3 linked regions of the Homo sapiens genome follow. The protein of the gene in region 2 interacts with the protein of the main gene of each other region in a biochemical or structural test. Each region holds a gene or a part of one and is shown on either strand. Other genes may lie near its edges.

Evidence for each region. The genes of interacting proteins can lie anywhere in the genome.
Region 1: the proteins of PTPRF (region 2) and JUP form a complex in vitro, tested with the Homo sapiens proteins (one study listed by BioGRID).
Region 3: the proteins of PTPRF (region 2) and NCAN form a complex in vitro, tested with the Homo sapiens proteins (one study listed by BioGRID).

The regions. Positions count from the first base shown.
Region 1 is NC_000017.11:41,762,712-41,769,736, reverse strand, and holds part of JUP (junction plakoglobin), read left to right. Parts: intron 1-59; coding exon 60-319; intron 320-529; coding exon 530-768; intron 769-2,156; coding exon 2,157-2,358; intron 2,359-4,669; coding exon 4,670-4,814; intron 4,815-4,920; coding exon 4,921-5,024; intron 5,025-6,415; coding exon 6,416-6,754; intron 6,755-7,025. UniProt on the Homo sapiens protein: Common junctional plaque protein. The membrane-associated plaques are architectural elements in an important strategic position to influence the arrangement and function of both the cytoskeleton and the cells within the tissue.
Region 2 is NC_000001.11:43,617,863-43,624,171, reverse strand, and holds the end of PTPRF (receptor-type tyrosine-protein phosphatase F isoform 1 precursor), read right to left. Parts: coding exon 6,261-6,309; intron 5,543-6,260; coding exon 5,423-5,542; intron 5,125-5,422; coding exon 4,970-5,124; intron 4,885-4,969; coding exon 4,599-4,884; intron 4,493-4,598; coding exon 4,314-4,492; intron 4,078-4,313; coding exon 3,951-4,077; intron 3,719-3,950; coding exon 3,593-3,718; intron 3,335-3,592; coding exon 3,180-3,334; intron 3,076-3,179; coding exon 2,940-3,075; intron 2,238-2,939; coding exon 2,169-2,237; 3' UTR 506-2,168; downstream 1-505. UniProt on the Homo sapiens protein: Possible cell adhesion receptor. It possesses an intrinsic protein tyrosine phosphatase activity (PTPase) and dephosphorylates EPHA2 regulating its activity.
Region 3 is NC_000019.10:19,242,933-19,249,957, reverse strand, and holds part of NCAN (neurocan core protein precursor), read right to left. Parts: intron 4,646-7,025; coding exon 4,501-4,645; intron 1,259-4,500; coding exon 1,076-1,258; intron 193-1,075; coding exon 47-192; 3' UTR 1-46. UniProt on the Homo sapiens protein: May modulate neuronal adhesion and neurite growth during development by binding to neural cell adhesion molecules (NG-CAM and N-CAM). Chondroitin sulfate proteoglycan; binds to hyaluronic acid.

The DNA.
Region 1 (7,025 bases), on a different chromosome or scaffold from region 2:
CTCCCCAGTGTCTGCCCAGCCCACTGCCTGCACTCAGTCCCTGTCCCCATGGCCCCCAGGTGATCTGGAGTACCAGATGTCCACAACAGCCAGGGCCAAACGGGTGCGGGAGGCCATGTGCCCTGGTGTGTCAGGCGAGGACAGCTCGCTTCTGCTGGCCACCCAGGTGGAGGGGCAGGCCACCAACCTGCAGCGACTGGCCGAGCCGTCCCAGCTGCTCAAGTCGGCCATTGTGCATCTCATCAACTACCAGGACGATGCCGAGCTGGCCACTCGCGCCCTGCCCGAGCTCACCAAACTGCTCAACGACGAGGACCCGGTCTGTGAGGGTCCCTGCTAGGGTGGGGGCTGGGCAGGGAGGGGAGAGAGCAGATGTCCTCAGGGGAGGGACATTGTAGGGGTGGAGGGAGGTTATGACCCAGACTCTCCCGTGTGTGATGAGTCTGACTGGGGCCCTCCTCAGCTCTGTGGAAGGGTATCCCGGCCTCTCCTTAGTGCTCACGTCCCCGCCCCTGCCTTTGCCCTCCAGGTGGTGGTGACCAAGGCGGCCATGATTGTGAACCAGCTGTCGAAGAAGGAGGCGTCGCGGCGGGCCCTGATGGGCTCGCCCCAGCTGGTGGCCGCTGTCGTGCGTACCATGCAGAATACCAGCGACCTGGACACAGCCCGCTGCACCACCAGCATCCTGCACAACCTCTCCCACCACCGGGAGGGGCTGCTCGCCATCTTCAAGTCGGGTGGCATCCCTGCTCTGGTCCGCATGCTCAGGTACCCAACCCTGCTCACTGCATGAGCCCAGGACCCCCTCTCACTTGGGCCTCTCCCCTCCCTTCCCTGAGCTTCCATAAATATCCAGTGAGCACCTACTATGTGCCAGGCAGAAGCACACCCCATCCGGGTGCTCGGTGGCTCACAGCCCAGCAGGGAACACAGGCATGTAAACAGCAGGTTAATGATCAGGATACGACACAGGCTATGGCAGAAGAGCATTGAGATTGCTCAAAGGTGGAATCGCTTAATGGCAGGGGATTGACAGATGAGTGGAGTTTGGCTAGTGCAGAGGAAGGGAAGAGTGTCCCAGGCAGAGGGAACAGCAAATGCAAAGTCCCTTGCAAACTTTCTGTTTCCTGGCCCCCTACAAAATGTGGATTGGCCTCATTTCTTTTTTTTTTTTTGAGATGAGGCCTTGCTCTGTCACCCAAGCTGGAGTGCAGTGGCGTGATCTCAGCTCACTGCAGCCTCCACCTCCTGGGTTCGAATGATTCTCCTGCCTCAGTCTCCTGAGTAGCTGGGATTACAAGCATCTGCCACCATACCTAGCTATTTTTTTTTGTTTTGAGATGGAGTTTTCCTCCTGTTGCCCAGGCTGGAGTGCAATGGCACAGTCTCGGCTTACTGCAACCTCTGCCTCCCGGGTTCAAGAGATTCTCCTGCCTCAGCCTCCCAAGTAGCAGGGATTACAGGCACCCACGACCATGCCTGGCTAATTTTTGTATTTTTAGTAAAAATGGGGTTTCACCATGTTGGCCAGGCTAGTCTTGAACTCCTGACCTCAGGTGATCTGCCCCCCTTGGCCTCCCAAAGTGCTGGGATTATAGGCGTCTGCCACCATGCCCAGCTCAATTTTGTATTTTTAGTAGAGACGGGGTTTCACCACGTTGGCCAGGCTGGTTTCGAACTCCTAACCTCAGGGTGATCCACCTGCCTCAGCCTCCCCAAGCGCTGAGTTTACAGACGTGAGCCACTGCTCCTGGCCTTATTTCTCATTCCCATACCAGGCTGGAAGCTCCCTGAAGGGGAGACACTGATTTCACTCCCCTCTGAACGCCTTGCAAGGCCTCTCTAATATGTGGCCTTCCACATGGTGGTTACTTAGTAGGGATCAGTGTCTAGGGGACCTACTGTGCGCTCAGCACAGGGCTGGGGACTCAGAAGCAGGAGGAGTCATTGTCCCAGTTGGGAGAAGAGAGGTGCTGTTTGCTTCATGCTTAAGAGCAGGGCAGGCTCAAGGAGTGATGAGATTTTAGCAAAGGGATATTTCCAGAGGGGCGTCAGTAGCGGGGAGGCTTCCTGGGGGAGGTGGGAACCCATGCCAGGCTCACATGTATGCCAGGCCTCTGGGACCTCAGCGTACTAACCCCTGCCCACCCCCCCAGCTCCCCTGTGGAGTCGGTCCTGTTCTATGCCATCACCACGCTGCACAACCTGCTCCTGTACCAGGAGGGCGCCAAGATGGCCGTGCGCCTGGCCGACGGGCTGCAAAAGATGGTGCCCCTGCTCAACAAGAACAACCCCAAGTTCCTGGCCATCACCACCGACTGCCTGCAGCTCCTGGCCTACGGCAACCAGGAGAGCAAGGTGGGCCCTCCCCAACTCTCCCGAGGCCTGAAGCCCACCCTTGCGCCATCTTCTATCCTGCACAGCCTTGGGCCGCTGCCCCCTTACTCCTTTTAGATGAGATATAGGTGCAGATATACATGCTTCATCATGCGACTGAATTGCCCAGAATTATTATTTTGAGGATAAGGGAAAAAAAAAATCACTCATCCTCATATAGCCACTATTGTCATTTCGATGTGCTTCCTTAAGAGCTGTTCTGTGGGCAGATTACAGATGTGTACACATCCTTGTCATCATAACAATCTGCAATATTGCATCTGTTTTCTGCCTGATTTTTTTTTTTTTTTTTTGAGACAGGGTCTCACTCTGTCACACAGGCTAGAGTGCAGTGGTGTAATCAGGGCTCACTGCAGCCTTGACTTCCTGGGCTCAGATGATCCTCCTACCTCAGCCTCCAGAGTAGCTGGGACTTCAGGCGTGTGCTACCACGCCCGACTAATTTTTTTTTTCCTTTTCTTTTCTTTCTTTTTTTTTTTTTGTTTGAGATGGAGTCTCACTTTGTCGCCCAGGCAGGAGTGCAATGGCACGATCTCGGCTCACTGCAACCTTCGCCTCCCGGGTTCAAGCGATTCTCCTGCTTCAGCCTCCCAAGTAGCTAGGATTACAGGTGCCCGCCACCACACCCAGCTAATTTTTGTATTTTTAGTAGAGACAAGGTTTCACCACATTGGCCAGGCTGGTCTCGAACTCTTGACCTTAGGTTGTCCATCTGCCTCGGCCTCATAAAATGCTGGGATTACAGGCATGAGACACCGTGCCCCACCCCCAACTAATTTTTTATAGAGATGGGATTTCTCCATGTTGCCCAGGCTGGTCTCAAACTCCTGGGCTCAAGTGATCTGCCTGCCTTGGCCTCCCAAAGTATCAGGATTACAGGTGTGAGCCACTGTGCCTGGCCTGTATGATGTTTAAAAAAAATTTTTTTTTGCTATATTGTCCTCAAAACCACCCTCTAATAATGACAGATTGCCTTTCCTTTCCCCTTTCCCCCTCCCCTTTCCTTTTTCCTTTTCCTTTTCCTTTTCCTTTCCCTCTCTTCCTCTCTTTCTTCCTTCCTTCCCATTCTTTCCTTTTCTTTCTTTTTTGAGACAGGGTCTCACTGTGTTACCCAGGCTAGAGTGCAGTGGCATGATCCTAGCTCACTGCATCCTCAAACTCCTGAGCTCAAGCATTCCTCCCATCTTAGTCTTCCTGATAGCTAGGACTATGAGAACATACTACTGAGCTAATTAGCACCCGGGCTAAGTTTTAAATTTTTTGTGGGGATGGTGTCTTGCTCTGTTGCCCAGGCTACCCTCAAGGAATCCTCCTGCTTCAGCCTCCGAAATGCTGGGATTAAAGTCATGGGCCACCATACCCAGCCTACAGATAGCATTTCATTAAGTGGAGACCTCAGGCTTTATTCTGAGGGAGGGTATTTAGATTGCTCCTATTCCACCTTTATAAACAATGCTGTAATGAATGTCTAGCCTTTGTCAAAGAGCGGAAAAAATTCTCATCAATTTTTAACACTTCTAGGCTTTTCCCCAAATGGCCAGATTGATTTCCAGAAGGACTGGACTAATTTCCAGTGCCATAACTGGTAATGGGTGTGCATATAGTTTTGTCATGTCCTTGTCAGCACTGGGTATTATCCTTTTTTCAAAATTTTGGCTTACATAACAGTCATGAAACTATTGGGGTGGGCTGGGTGTGGTGGTTCACGCCTGTAATCCCAGCACTTTGGGAGGCAGAGGCGGGTGAATTGCCTGAGGTCAGGAGTTTGAAACCAGCCTGGCCAACATAGTGAAACCCTGTCTCTACCAAAAACTACAGAAATTAGCCGGGCGTGATGGCACACGCCTGTAATCCCAGCTACTTGGGAGGCTGAGGCATGAGAATTGCTTGAACCCGGGAGGCGGAGGTTGTAGTGACCTGAGATCGTGCCACTGCACTCCAGCCTGGGTGACAGAGCGAGACTCTATCTCAAAAAAAAAAACAAAAAAACTTATTGGGGTGCTTGGCTGGGTGTGGTGGCTCACATCTGTAATCCCAGCACTTTGGGAGGCTGAGGTGTGAGGATCACTTGAGGCCAGGAGTTCTAGACCAGCCTGGGCAGCATAGTGAGACCCCCATCTTTATAAAAAGAAAAAAATACATTAAAAGAAAAAAACGAACTATTCGTGCTTTAGCTGAAGCTCAGTAATGACAGTTCTGTCTCCTGTCCCGCGCTTCCTTGTTCCTGTCATATTCCCCGTCCATCTCACACTCATTCCCTCTTTACCCATAGCTGATCATCCTGGCCAATGGTGGGCCCCAGGCCCTCGTGCAGATCATGCGTAACTACAGTTATGAAAAGCTGCTCTGGACCACCAGTCGTGTGCTCAAGGTGCTATCCGTGTGTCCCAGCAATAAGCCTGCCATTGTGGAGGCTGGTGAGTATGATGGCCTTGAGGGCGGCTGGGGTGGGAGCTCTGCCCAGCTGCCAGGCTCAGTCAGCCATGCTCCCCGTGGCTGATGGCACCCCTATCCCTGCCCCAGGTGGGATGCAGGCCCTGGGCAAGCACCTGACCAGCAACAGCCCCCGCCTGGTGCAGAACTGCCTGTGGACCCTGCGCAACCTCTCAGATGTGGCCACCAAGCAGGTGAGGGAGGTATCTGGGCCTGGGGTTGACCTCTTCAGCTGCCCCATCCAGCCTCCTGTCTGGGCATCTGACCTGAGGTACTGTGGGAGGACTGGGGGCTCTAAATCTCTCTTCCTTGTGACTGAGGCTGGAAATGCCTTGAAAACCCTCATCTCTTTTTTTTTTTTTTTTTTTTTTTCTGACGGAGTCTCACTCTGTCACCTAGGCTGGAGTGCAGTGGTGCAATCTCGGCTCACTGCAAGCTCCGCCTCCTGGGCTCAAGTGATTCTCCTGCCTCAGCCTCCCGAGTAGTTGGGACTACAGGCACCTGCCATCATGTCTGGCTAATTTTTGTATTTTTATTAGAGACAGGGTTTCACCATGTTGGGCAGGCTGGTCTTGAACTCCTGACCTCAGGTGATCCACCCGCCTTGGCCTCCCAAAGTGCTGGGATTACAGGCGTGAGCCACCACATCCAGCAAAAGAACAGTTTTGACCTGGGCCCTGGGCTGGAGCAATAGTGTACCAAGAGACAGGCCCCCATGACTAAAAATACAATTTAAGGAAAAATGCAGCTCCAGGGCAAGTGCCCTGTGCCTCCTTCCAACAACCATTCCCCAGGCCTCCCCTAGCAATATGCTGTTTATCAAGTGCTCACCCTGTGCTGGCCCTCTGCGTGGCATTTGTGGACAGTAGCTCATTCAACCTGGGGTTAGAGTGTGGGACCCTGTGGGTTAGATGAAGACACTGAGGCTCGGGGAGCTAATGGCCATGGTCACAGGTAGTAAATGGCAGAACTGGGATTTGAACCCAGGACTGTCCGTCCCCAAAGCTGGGGTTTTTCTGTTCCACCACAAGGCCCACGTGTCTCCCTGGGAGAAGTGAGATAGACGTCTGAGGTAGTGATTTTACTGGAAATGGATTTGGCTCAGGGCCCCAGGGTGGTGGGGCAGCAGTGAAGGCCCAGAAAGGTGACAAGCGAGTAGACATGGCTCAGCTGGGCCACTGAATCATGCGGCCCCCTCAACAATTGCCTCCTGGTCTCGAGGCCTCCCTTGGCCACCGTACTTTGGCCTGAGGAGGGTTCTGCCTGGGTCTGAGGGCCCCAGGGAAAGGCTGATGAGTTGGAGGGAAGAGATGTGGGGCTTAGAGCCAAGCCTGGGTTCAGATCCAGCCACTAGCTGTGTGTCTGTGGGCAAGTTCCCCAACCTCTCTGAGCCTCATTGCCTCACTTGCACCACAGGATAGTAACGCCCTCTCACAGGGTGTGGCGGGTCATAGGGATGAAAGTTCCCGGGCACACACAGGCAGGGCTGACCCCTTTAGGTCATCCCACTCCCCTTGGACATATTCGAGAAGGCTCCCTGGAGTTGGCTGCTCCCTGACTCCCCCGTCCCTTCCTTGCCCTCCAGGAGGGCCTGGAGAGTGTGCTGAAGATTCTGGTGAATCAGCTGAGTGTGGATGACGTCAACGTCCTCACCTGTGCCACGGGCACACTCTCCAACCTGACATGCAACAACAGCAAGAACAAGACGCTGGTGACACAGAACAGCGGTGTGGAGGCTCTCATCCATGCCATCCTGCGTGCTGGTGACAAGGACGACATCACGGAGCCTGCCGTCTGCGCTCTGCGCCACCTCACTAGCCGCCACCCTGAGGCCGAGATGGCCCAGAACTCTGTGCGTCTCAACTATGGCATCCCAGCCATCGTGAAGCTGCTCAACCAGCCCAACCAGTGGCCACTGGTCAAGGTACTGCTGTTAGGCGAGGGGAAGGAGCTCCCTGCAGCAGGCTTAGGTGCTGTATTGGTATAGGCAAAGCCGCTGTAGCAAAGAAGCCCTAAATACAGTGGCTCGAATAAGACAGAAGTTTATTTCTCTCTCGTGTAATAGTTTAGACCTCAACAATGGCTCTGCTCTAAAATTCCAGAATTGGGATTTCTATCTTGTAGCTCTACCAGCCCCTAGGGCAGAGCTCAGAGTTCAAAATGCACATGAGTACCCTGGGTGGTTTCATTAAATT
Region 2 (6,309 bases):
TGCTCACCAGTGGAGCAGCTGCACAGCTCAGTGGGTGATGCAGCTGTGTGTCCAGGGGCCAGATGGACACACTGTTTTTTGTGTCCATTATCCACATTGCAATAATTACAGGAGATCTCACTAACCAATTTCCATACATTCAGTCTCTACTGCCACAGGGCCATCCCTCTCCTCCAAGGTAGTGGGAGAGGGGCAGTCCCAATGCCCCGATAGTGCAACCCACAGAATCTTAAAGGGAAAGAGAGGCAAAGGGTATGCTCCCCGGCCTAGGGTGCTCTTCACATGCACTGGTGGCTCTGGCCTGGCTGGCTCTTGGTGGCCTGGTTTTCAGGGTTTATAACCACTCCTTTCTGAAAGTGGGTAGCCATGCCAGGAGCCTACACTGGCACAAATACTTAGGGTACCCTCCCCGTCTCCTCAGGAGCAGGGAATCTCCAGAACCCATCCTAGCTACTGATTTGGCCCAGACTCTTTGGTTCCAGAAACAGCTGAGACAGAGTCCTGGTTTGTAAGAAATCTGATTATTCAAATTTATTACCATCAAGAATTATGCAATGATGCTGTAGTTTTTCTTAACAAATAGAAAACAGACTGTGTACAACAGTGAACTCTACAGCACTAGCATCCACAAGGTAAAAATGAATGTTTCATCATCCAACATTACCAACCCTGGAATGTTGATCTTGACTTAGCCTAGCTAGGTTTGGGGACGTCGGCACCACGTCCCTCAGCTAAAACAGCTATGCACCCTTCCCCGCCCCCACTTACCTATCTAGATAGCGCTGCCCAGAGGAAGAGGCGCTCTCCCTGCCCCTCAGCAAGCTGGGATAATAAGGACTGATTAGAGTACCATTGATAGAAGTCCAGTAGTCTTGCCACATTGGTTTATGAGGGCATCTTGGAGTGGAAAAGAGCGATTATCGGGGGCTTTGAAAACAGCTGCAAACCAGGGAGGAAAATCATCTGGCCCCTGCTCTGAGGACAGACATGTGCTACCAGGCCCACTGGCCTGGACCTGAAAGGCCAGCCACGCCCCCGCTTGGCCCTGAGGTGCATGGGGTGTGGCACACACCCTAACCTGTGCTATTCACCTTGGCCACACAGCCAGACCCCACAGCCTACAAACACCACACCATACTGCAATGCTGGGGACCAAAGCCAGGCTCTGTGGGCCCAGGTCAGCCAGCAGCTCCCTCGGGAACCCCAGGCACACGGAGTTGCTTCCCCTCTTGAGGGTTTGAAGCAGAAGCCAAGGGCTGACTCTTTTTTTTTTTCTTGGGTTTTTTGTTTTTTTTGTTTTTTATTTTTGTGGTTTTTTGTTTTTGTTTTAACCTTTGCAAACACGATGGTGATGAGGAATGCCTTGCCAGGCTCTCCCAGACACATCTGTGGTTCTGGGCTGTGAATGTTAAACACACACTGGGATAGACGACCAGGGATGAGTGTTCCCTATCTTCTCCCCGCCCACCACTGTCAATGTGGCCTAAAAAAAGGCTTTAAAGGGAAAACAAAACTTAAAAAAACATTGAGTTTCCCTGCATTTAGCTGAAACAGGATCTCGTCTGAAGGGCTGGAGGAGCAGCCGGATCAGCACTGCCTCCCGGCCCACGGCCGAGCCTCCGCTCAGGCTGGCAGCCCCAGCTCTGCACGAGGAAGGCAATGTTCTGTCCTTCAGCAGAAGTCATACAAAATAAGGATCCAAAGTGAACTCAAGAAAAAAAAAAACAAAACAAAATAAACCCCAACCCCTACAGTGGCCCATTCTGCAGATACGGATTCGCGAAAGGAAAAATCAGAGGGAAGAGGCTAAAATCCCTCAGTCTACCCCACTTAATGTATTAAAAAGGAGGCTTTGCCCCAACCCCACCCCATGAGAAGAAGCATGAGAAATGCGGGAGCGCAACAGAGAGCTTGAAGCGGGCTCCAGGTGGGTCTGGTGGACAGAAGGGCCACAGTGCCTGCCTGCTGGGCCATCCACTTGCCCAGGGATGTTCTAGGCTCTCTGATTGGTGTGGCAACGTTCCTGAAACGCTGTGATCCCCGTGGGCTGTGCTCTGCCAGTGACAGCATCTGCGTAGGAGGGCTGGACGATGGTCGGTATGGCTCAGAGGAGCTGGGTCCCCTCCGGAGCCCCACGGCGGGGGTGGCGGAGGAGAGGGGAGCGGTAGTTACGTTGCATAGTGGTCAAAGCTGCCGAGGTACTCCAGGGCCGCACGGTAGCACAGCTGATACTGGTCCTGCCAGGATAGGGGGCTGGTCAGTGTGGGTCGCGCCAGTGGACACCCCCACTACACAGCTGACACTCACACTGCAGCCATGGAGTTAGCCTCTGCTGGCCAAGAGCAGGTGCTGGACCCTGGCAGCTACATCAGGCAGTGTGCGGGGGAGCCTGAAAGAGCCTCTGAAGGCTCATCTCTCTCCTGTCATTCTCTCAGGCCCCCACATCTACCTGCCTTCCATCTGCCATCCCAATCATGTTTCTCTGCTCCTGACTGGGCACCCCATAAGGATTGCTCTGTGCAACCTTGCCCAGAGCCAGGCACACCACTGGGGCTCAGCAGAGAGCTGCCGAATGAAAGAACACATCTTACTCATCAATCCCCTGAGCCCCCAGGCAGCACAGGCAATGTTGCAGCATTTTTGTTTTGTTTTGTTTTGTTTTCAGCAACAGGGTCTTGCTCTGCCACCCAGGCTGGAGTGCCGTGGTATAATCATAGCTCACTGCAGCCTCGAACTTCTGACCTCAAGTGATTCTCCCACATCAACCTCCCAAGTAGGTAGGACCATAAGCACACACCACCATGCCTATCGCAGGCCACGTGAAAGGTTGGCAGCATGAATGAATGCACATGCCTGTGGGCATCAAACTGTTGCTAAAGCCTAGGGTTCCCAGCAGCGCTGCTGCCAAGGCCCTGGCCCTGCAGCCTGGTCTGCGTTACCTCTGTCTGCACCATGGCAGGACGCTGTGTACGCAGGGTCTTCACGGTCTGAAACATGTCGACCACGCCCTCGTAGCGCATGCGCTCCAGGACGATGCTCAGAGTGATGAACACCCCGGTGCGGCCCACGCCAGCACTGCTCAGAAACACAGTTGGGTCAGGAGTCCTGCTTGCCTCATGCAGTGGGTCTGCCAGGCCTTCAGGCCCACCCACCCCAGCCCTCCAGGGGGCCAGTCCCACCTGCAGTGCACCGTGATAGGCCCATCCTGTCCAAACTGCTCCTTGGTCTTATGCACCTGCCCGATGAAGTCAATGAATCCCTCGCCTGTCTTGGGCACGCCCTGCTCTGGCCAGTCTGTGAACTGGAACTGCCGGATTGTCCTTGACTGCCCATCCTGGGAAAGGTGGGTGGGGTACATGATTAGAATTCGTGCCTTAGGCAGCCACCCCTCTGGACTAGACCAGGGTAGTACCATGATACAGGCATGCATCTGTGTCACTGCACCCGAGGCCACAGGGGGAGATGTGCTCACACCCTAATACCCACCCACCGCCTCAGATTTCTGAAGCTTGAGCTAAGGTACCATGCAGGCAGCCATCCACCCAGCGTGTGGACAGGCAGCGTTATGGACACACTCAATGCACTCACTCACCCGGGCATCCGTGACCTTGAACTCACGCAGGATATACTGGGGCATGTTGTACTCAGCCATCGGGTCAACAACAAAGTACTGGTAGCGAGCAGAGCGCTCTGCTGGCCAGTACTGGTGGCATTTCTCCTGTGGACAGAGGGTCGGGCCCCCATAATCAGGTGAGAAGGAATAGGGGAGGGGTGCCAGGCTTCACAGGATTCTGGGACAGATGCCTCAGGTAGTAATAACGGGCGCCTGAGGCCATGCTGACAAGCAGCTGGGGTGTCAAAGGAGACAGTAACATAGGCGGCAGCTCCCCCAAGGGTGGCTGGTGTTCTCCCAGGTATGACAGGGGCCCTGGGGGAAAGGGTGGGCTCACCCTGCCCATCTCCCGAAGCTTGGTCAGCATGACGATGATGGTGGAATTGTGCTCCCATAGCATGCGCCAGAAGTCCTCGGTGCTCTCTGCCAGAGGCCCCTGTGTAGCTATGTAGGCCTTCTGCTGTCTGGGGTGGACATAAGACTGGACATGCTGGAGGTGCTGCTGCCCCTAGAGTCTCCCCTTAGGCTGCCTAGCCCCTTGGGGCCCTGCTCAGATCACCCCTCCTCCAGGAAGTCCTCACTGCTCTACCCAGCCCTCTCTGGTCTTCTAGGCTGGCCCTACTCTGCTGCCCACCCCCACCAGCCAGGCACAGGCCTAGGCCCCTGTAGGGCATGGTGGGGCAGTGACATGCATGCTGACCTATAACCATCCAGGAAGCTGGCATTGATGTAGTCAGAGCCCTCCACACCACGGATGGGCTGCAGACACACACGGGTCAATTCGTAGGGCATGATGTTCACCAGCCGGTTCTTGAACTTGTTGCAGGGCAGGTTGGCGCTGATGAAGCGGGACGTGTGGGCCTTGGAGCTGGCCAGCAACTATTGAGAGGCAGGGATTGGTCAGGCCAGGCTTCCTGTGGGGGTGGGGGTCATCTGCATGACCCAGTCTAGGCCCTGGAGCCAAGCAGGCCCACCCGAGCCCCACCTTGAACTCGAGCTCCATGGCGGTCACACTCTCCCCTGGAGGCACTTGGCCCAGCTTCTGGATGTGGGCATACAGGTTGCGGGCAGGCACCTCTGTGTGGCCGCACGTGGCAGCCTCCAGCAGCGCCTCATGGATGAACACGTACTGGTCCTCCGTCTGCACCATGTAGTTCCTCTGTGATCGCATGCAGGTCACGTGGCCATAGATGTCCACCGTCTTCTCGTGCTTCATCCGCTCCAACATGGCATCAATCACGATGAAGCAGCCGGTGCGGCCCACGCCCGCGCTGCAGGACACGGGCTCAGCTTGAGGCACAGGCGCCCCCACCTCCCACCCCACCCACCCCTCTGGGTGGCACTGTACCCTCTCACCTGCAGTGCACCACCATGGGCCCTGCGTCTAGGGGGTTGCAGGCCTTGACCCGTCGTAGGAAGGCCAGGATGGGAGTTGGGTACTCAGGAACTCCATGGTCTGGCCAGGCCATGAACTGAAACTGACGCAGCTCGCGCTTCTCACTGGAGCCACTCTGGGGGACAAAGTGGGGACATACTGGCGACTAGGAGCCTACCTGCCATAGACTCAGGACTGAATGACCTGATGCTGAGGCCATACCCGCCACTTCCCCATGGGACTCAGAAGCCACACAGAGTAGCCTGAAGCTCCTAGCACTGTTCCCATAACATGGATCATCACATCACTCACACACCTGAGCCTCCGACCCTCCAACACCCAGGCTCCAGCTTCCCCCCGACCCAGCACACCACACCCAGGCCACTGTCCTTACAGTGTCTGGGTAAGAGATATGCACTGGGGAAAGGCTATACCTTGTGGAGTGCGAAGGTGCGCACAGTGTATGTGGCCAGCTCCACTGTGTCCAACAGGGTCACCTGAATAAGGCCACAGGTCTCGGTGCCACGGGCTGGCCAGTACTGATCACATTTTACCTGCAGGAGGATGAGCAGGGCAGGCTGAAGGAAGCCCACAGGCTCAGACGGGCAGAAGCAGGGTGGAGGCTGGTCAACTCCCTGGCTGTAGCCTTTCTGGCTACAAAGCCCCCCAGCCCTGAGCTCTCAGATCCATTGCCCCCTGTCCTCCACAAGCCACATCAGGTCCTCAAGCTATGTCACCGCCCTGCCCTAGCTAGTGGAATAAGGGTCATAATTGAAAATTATTTATTCAACGCCAGATCGCACCAGGCACATTTTCTGCCAAATTTACCCATAACGTTTATGTGCCATTTTCAAGCTCTGTAAATTTTACGTTCCAGTCAATGCTTTGCAGTCCAAAAACAGATAACAGCAGCTCTTTCCACTAATTAACTTAGGAGATGTGTTAATGCCCCAGGAACACTCCAGCATCTGGGGAACACATGAATACCCCGGGAACACGCCAGCAACTGGGGAACACATTAACATTCTCCGAAAATGACAGCATTTGGTGAAACATATTAACATCTTAAGGAACCCACTAGCATGTGGGGAACATGCTGTATCCCAGAAACACCCAGTATTTGGGGAGCATAATACCCCCAGTAACAATAGCATCTGGGGATCACTTGAGCGACTTCCTCCACAGAAGAAAGCGGCACAGAAGAAGGTGCCCTGTATCACCTTGTGGCTGGGCATTTCCCACCCGCCTCCTGGCAGGGCCCTGCAGCCTCACCCGGGACTTCTCCTCCAGCCGTGTCATCATGACCACAGTGGCCGTGCGC
Region 3 (7,025 bases), on a different chromosome or scaffold from region 2:
CAGAGGAGGCATGGGAAAGGTGTTGTGCTTTCTTTTTTCTGGTTCTTCAGCAGAAATTCCCTTCGTCCTTCTCCCAGTCCTCCGTTGGGTGTTTCTTGTGTTTTCTGCGCTCCTTGCGGGATTTGTGGTGGTGATGCTGGTGGTGGTGTTGGTGGTGGTGGTGGTGTCGCCGCATCCGATGTGAACGTCTGGCTGCAGGGAAGTGAGGGAGGACAGGGAAGGGACAAAAGGTGGTGAGAGGCAGGTGGCCTGATGCAGCGGGTGTCCTTGGGAGAGAAAGTAGAGGAAAGAGGCCAGACGCGAGGGCTCATCCCTGTCATCCCAGCACTTTGGGAGGCCAAAGTGGGAGGATCTCTTGAAGCCAGGAGTTTGAGACCAGCTTGGGCAACATAGCGAGAACCTATCTCTACAAAAATAAAAAAATTAGCCAGGCGTGGCGGCACATGCTTGTAGTCCCAGCTATTTGGGAGGCTGAGTTTGGAGGATCCCTTGAGACTGGGAGGATGAGGCTATAGTGAGCTGTGATTGAGCCTCGCACTCCAGCCTGGGCAACAGAGTGAGGCTCTGTTTCAAAAAAAACAAAACCAGGCCGGATGTGGTGGCTCACGCCTGTAATCCCAGCACTTTGGGAGGCTGAGGTGAGCTGATCACATGAACTCAGGAGTTCGAGATCAGCCTGGCCAACATAGTGAAACCCTGTCTCTACTAAAAATACAAAAATTAGCCGGGCATGGCAGTGGACACCTGTGATCCCAGCTACTCAGGAGGCTGAGACACAAGGATCGCTTGAACCCGGGAGGTTGCAGTGAGCCGAGATTGTGCCACTGCACTCCAGCCTGGGCAACAGAGCACAACTCCATCTCTCTCTCATACACATACACACACACACACACACACACACACACACACACAAATGAAGGAAACATCAGACAGGCTGGTAAGTTCTCACTTATCTGCAAGGCTGTATTATCAGGCAGACATTAAGCCAGATCAATGTGTGGAGAAATAGGATGTCTTACTTGGAAACTAGAAATACCAAAAACCTATGTTGAGATCTCTGGGAGAAGCTACTTACGTTTGGTGCAGACAATTTGGGGCCTGTCCCACTTGCCATTGCTCCGGCATCGAATGGTGGCCACATGGTGCTGGGCAAATCCTTCATTGCACTGGTACCTTACAGTGGCATGGACATTGTACTTGGCCTTGCGGGCACCGATGAGTGAGGCATTCTCCACTGCCGGAGGGGGACCACAGAGCACTGGGACAGAGGAATCTCTAGTGAGAGAGGTGCTCACATCTGGGGCTAAACTAGTTGTTGTTGTTGTTGTTGTTTGAGACAGAGTTTCGCTCTGTCACCCAGACTGGAGTGCAGTGGCGCGCTCTTGCCTCACTGCAACCTCCGCCTCTCTGGTTCAAGCGATTCTCCTGCCTCAGCCTCCCAAGTAGCTGGGATTACAGGCACCTGCCTGTAATCTACACCTGGCTAATTTTTGTATTTTTTTGTTCCTTTTTTGAGACAGGGTCTCACTCTGTCTCCCAGACTGGAGTGCAGTGGCGTGATCTCGGCTCACTGCAACCCCTGCCTCCCAGACTCAAGTGATTCTCCTGCCTCAACCTCCCGAGGAGCTGGGATTACAGACATGCACCACCATGGCTGGCTAATTTTTGTATTTATAGTAGAGACCGGGTTTCGTCATATTGGCCAGGCGGGTCTTGAACTCCTGACCTCAGATGAGCTGCCCACCTTGTCCTCCCAAAGTGCTGGGATTAAAGGCATGAGCCACCGTGCCTGGCTCTTATTGTTGTTTTTAAAAGAGCGTCTTCCTTTGTCGCTCAGGCTGGAGTGCAGTGGCACAATCACAACTCACTGCAGCCTCAACCTCCCAGGCTCAAGGGATCTTCCCACCTCAGCCTCTCAAGTAGCTGAGACTACAGGTGCGCACCACCGAGCCTAGCTAATTTTTTGATTTTTTGTAAAGACAGGGTCCCACTATGTTGCCCGGGCTAGTTTTGAACTCATGGGCTCAAGCTGAGTTTTATTGGGAATGACACCCCCCTCAGCTCGTCAACAGGTCCCTGCCTCTGCCCAGTTCTTATCTCACAGGGCTGGAAGTGACTGTGTCTGTCTGTCTCTTCTACCCAAATCAGCAGCTCCTTAGGGACAGCAACCTCCCGGACACACCTCACTTTCTAATTCTTACACCAAACATAGGGCACAATGGGAATGAAGGAGACAGACGGCAATAATAATTATCTGAGCAAATAAAGGCCGGGTGCGGCAGCTCAGGCCTGTAATGCCAGCACTTTGGGAGGCTGAGGTGGAAGGATTGCTTCAGTCCGGGAGTTTGAGACCAGCCTGGGCAACACAGCAAGACCCTGTCTCTACAAAAAAATTTTAAAATAAGGGCCGGGTGCGGTGGCTCACACCTGTAATTCCAGCACTTTGGGAGGCCGAGGCAGGCGGATCACAAGGTCAGGAGATCGAGACCATCCTGGCTAACACGGTGAAACATCGTCTCTACTAAAAATACAAAAAATTAGCTGGGTGTGGCAGCGTGCGCCTGTAGTCCCAGCTGCTGAGGAGGCCAAGGCAGGAGAATGGCGTGAACCCGGGAGGCGGAGCTTGTAGTGAGCCGAGATTGCGCCACTGCACTCCAGCCTGGGCGACAGAGCAAGACGCCGTCTCAAAATAAATAAATAAATAAATAAGCCAGGCATGGTGGTGTGCACCCGTAGTCCAGCTACTGGTAAGACTGAGGTAGGAGTATCACTTGAGCCCTGGAGTTCAAGTGATCTGCAGTGAGCCGTGATAATGCCACTGTACTCCAGCCTGGGCAACATTGCAAGACCCTGTTTCAAAAATAAATAAATAAATACATGAATAAATGGGGGGGAGGATGTGAAAATTGACAAAGAAATGGAAACAAAAATAAACCAAAGTATAAAATAAAGGTGGATGTACAAATGTATACAAATGATTTCTTTCATATATAAAGATCTCTTAAAAATCAGTAAGATCAACAAGTCAATAGAAAACTGGGCAAAAGAGATGAATTGACAGTTCACAGGGAAAGAAATATATGCCAACAGGCTGTCAACATATAAACAGTTGGTTAGGCCAGACACGGTGGCTCACACCTGTAACCCCAGAACTTTGGGAGGCTGAGGCAGGCAGACTACTTAAGGTCAGAAGTTTGAGACCAGCCTGGTCAACATGGTGAAACCCCGTCTCCACTAAAAATACAAAAACAAAAAAAAAATTAGCCAGGTGTGGTGTGTGCCTGTAATCCCAGCTACTCGGGAGGCTGAGGCAGGAGAATCGCTTGAACCTCAGAGGCGGAGGTTGCAGTGAGCCGAGACTGCAATACTGCACTCCAGCTTGGATGACAGAGTGAGACTCCATCTCAAACAAACAAACAAAAAACAACTGGTTATTCTCATCCTTAAAGGCATGCAAACTAAGATAACAATGAGATACTATTTTTCCCCACTTAGATGAACAAAGAACAAAAGTTTAAGAATGTGCAGAGTTAGCAAGGGTGGGAGGAAACAAGCACTCTCATACGCTGGTGGAAAGTGAGAACTGGCTGCACTGACATTTACCAACTTAAAAAGATGAAGGCGAGGTGCAGTGGCTCATGCTTGTAATCCCTGCCCTTTGGGAGGCCGAGGTGGGTGGATCACCTGAGGTCAGGAGTTCGAGACCAGCCTGGCCAACATGGTGAAACCCCGTCTCTACTAATAATATAAAAACCAGCTGGGCGTGGTGGCATACGCCTGTAATCCCAGCTACTCAGGAGGCTGAGGCAGGAGAATCACTTGAACATGGGAGGCAGAGGTTGAAGTGAGCCAAGAGCATGCCTTTGCACTCCAGCCTGGACAACAAGAGCGAAACTGTCTCCAAAAACATAAATAAGTAAAAACAAAATAAGAATAAATTAAAAAAATAAAATATAATCCCACCCACCTTGGCCTCCCAAAGTGTTGGGATTACAGGCATGAGCCACCCCGAGCGGCCTATTTCCAGAACTTTTTCATCACAACACACCAAAATTCTATACCCATTAAGCACTAGTGACTCCCCCTTCTCCCAAACCCTAGCCCCTGGCAAATACTAATCTACTTCTTGTCTCTAAATTTGTGTACTCTGAATGCTTCATGAAAAAAAAAAATGAATCAAGGCTGGGCACAATGGCTTATGCATATAATCCCAGCACTTCGAGAGGCTGAGACAGGCAGATCGCTTGAGCCCAGGAGTTCGGGACCAGCCTGGGCAACATGGCAAGACCCCATCTCTACAAAAAATACAAAAATTAGCTGGGCATGTTGGTGCATGCCTATAGTCCCACCTACTCGGGAAGCTGAGGCAGGAGGATGGCTTGAACCCAGGCGGTGGAGGCTGTGATGAGCCATGATTATGCCACTGCACTCCAGCCTGGGCAACAGAGAACCAGTGAGCAAAAGTGACAGAGAGGAAAAGAAGCAGGGGGCACAGCATACCTGTGCCCTTCTTGCAGACATAGGGTAGGTTGTAGTTGCAGGGGACATCGTTCCAGCGCCCGCTTTCATGCGCCACCATCACCACACAGTCCTCGCCACCCGCGAAGAAATTGTCCGGCTGGTTCTCTCGCCAGTTCTCAAATTGCTGCAGGAATAGGGGGCAGGGAGTTGTTCAGGGGACCTCTGTTCCAGCCCAGGTTCTGGCAATTCCTGCTGTGGGACTCCCCTGGCCAGACCCCTCAAACTCACAGGGATTCAGTGTTCCCATCTCTACAATGGCCACTGTCCTGCCCATCCTGACGGGGGCCACCACTGTAATCCAATACACCATTCCTCTGGTTTGGAGGCTGCAGCATTCTCCTCCCTGGTCCTCCTGCCTCCCTGGGTGCCCGGCCGCACCCAGTTCATTTTCAACATGAATCAGTGTTAGATAAGTGGTGGGACAAGGCCAGGCCTGGTGGCTCATGCCTGTAATCCCAGCACTCTGGGAGGCCGAGGTGGGCGGATCACCTGAGGTCAGGAGTTCAAGACCAGCCTGGTCAATATGGTGAAACCCCATCACCACTAAAAATACAAAAAATTAGCCAGGCATGGTAGTGGGAGCCTGTAATCCCAGCAGGAGAATTGTTTGAACCCGGGAGGCAGAGGTTGCAGTGAGCCGAGATTGCGCTATTGTACTCCAGCCTGGGTGACAAGACCGAGACTCTGCCTCAAAAAAAAAAAAAAAAAGGAAAAGAAAAAGAAAAAAGATACATGGTGGGACAAATGGTGATCTCAGCCCGAAGTCCAGGAGGACTTCCCTGAGGAGGCAATGTGAGAGTTAAAGAATCAAAGATAGTAAGGATTCAAGGCCGGGCTCAGTGGCTCATGCCTGTAATCCCAGCACTTTGAGAGGCCAAGGGGGTCAGATCACTTGAGGTCAGGAGTTTGGGACCACCTTGGACAACAAGGTGAAACCCTGTCTCTCATAAAAATACAAAAATTAGCCGGGCATGATGGTGCGCGCCTGTAGTCCCAAGATACTCGGGATGCTGAAGCAGGAGAATCCCTTGAGCCTGGGAGGCAGAGGTTGCAGTGAGCTGGGTTGCATCACTGAACTCCAGCCCGGGTGATGGAGTGAGATTCTATCTCAAAAAAAAAAAAAAAAAGATAGTAAGGGTTCAGACAGGGAACAGCATTCCTAGCAAAGGGAACCACCAGTGTGAAGGCTCAGAGGCAGGACTGAACTTGTTCTGCTTGAGGAACAGACAAAGCCCAGTGGGGCTGGAGCTGCGTGATGGGGCTGGGGTGTGCTCAGAGAGTAGAGAGGGACCAGATCTTGCATCAGAGAAAAGGAAGTGAATTTTTAAAAATTGTGGCAAAATATATATAGCGCAAAATATATATAGCACATAATTCCTAATTTTAACCATTTTTGTTTTGTTTTGTTTTGTTTTGTTTGAGACAGAGCCCAGGCTGGAGTGTAGTGGTGCGATCTCGCTCACTGCTACCTCCGCCTCCCAGGTCCCGGTTCAAGCAATTCTCCTGCCCCAGCCTCCTGAGTAGCTGGGATTACAGGCATGCGCCACCATGCCCAGCTAATTTTTGTATTTTCAGTAGAGATGGGGTTTCACCATGTTGGCCAGGCTGGTCTTGAACTCCTGACCTCGCGATCCACCCACCTTGGCCTCCCAAAGTGCTGGGATTACAGGCGTGAGCCACCGCACCTGGCCAATTTTAACCATTTTTACGTGTGCAGTTTATTGTTATTTTTATTTTGTTGAGACAGAGTCTCTATTATCCAGGCTGGATTGCAGTGGTGCTACCTTGGCTCGCTGCAACCTCCGCCTCCCGGGTTCAAGAGGCGGTGTGCAGTTTAATGCACTAATTACATTCACAATGTTGCATAACCATCATTGTTATTTCCAGAACTTTTTCTTTTTCTTTTTTTTTTTTTTTTTTTGAGATGGAGTCTCTCTCTGTCGCCCAGGCTGGAGTGCAGTGGCATGATCTTGGCTCACTGCAACCTCCGCCTCCCAGGTTCAAGCGATTCTCCTGCCCCAACCTCCTGAGTAGCTGGGATTACACGTGCACGCCACCACGCCTGGCTAATTTTTGTATTTTTAGTAGACACAGGGTTTTACCATATTGGTCAGGCTGGTCTTGAACTCCTGACCTTGTGATCCATCCACCTCAGCCTCCCAAAGTGTTGGGATTACAGGCCTGAGCCACCCCGCACAGCCTATTTCCAGAACTTTTTCATCACAACACACCAAAATTCTGTACTCATTGAGCACTAGTGACTCCCCCTTCTCCCGACCCCAGCCCCTGGCAAACACTAATCTACTTCCTGTCTCTAAATTTGCCTACTCTGAATGCTTCATGAAAAAAAAAAATCATACAACAGCTGGCCTTCTATGCCTGGCTCATTCCACATTTTGTTTATTATTTTATTTTATTTTATTTTTGAGCCGGAGTCTCGCTCTGTCTCAATTTTTGAATTTTTTGTAGAGATGGGGTTTCGCCATGTTGCCCAGGCTGGTCTC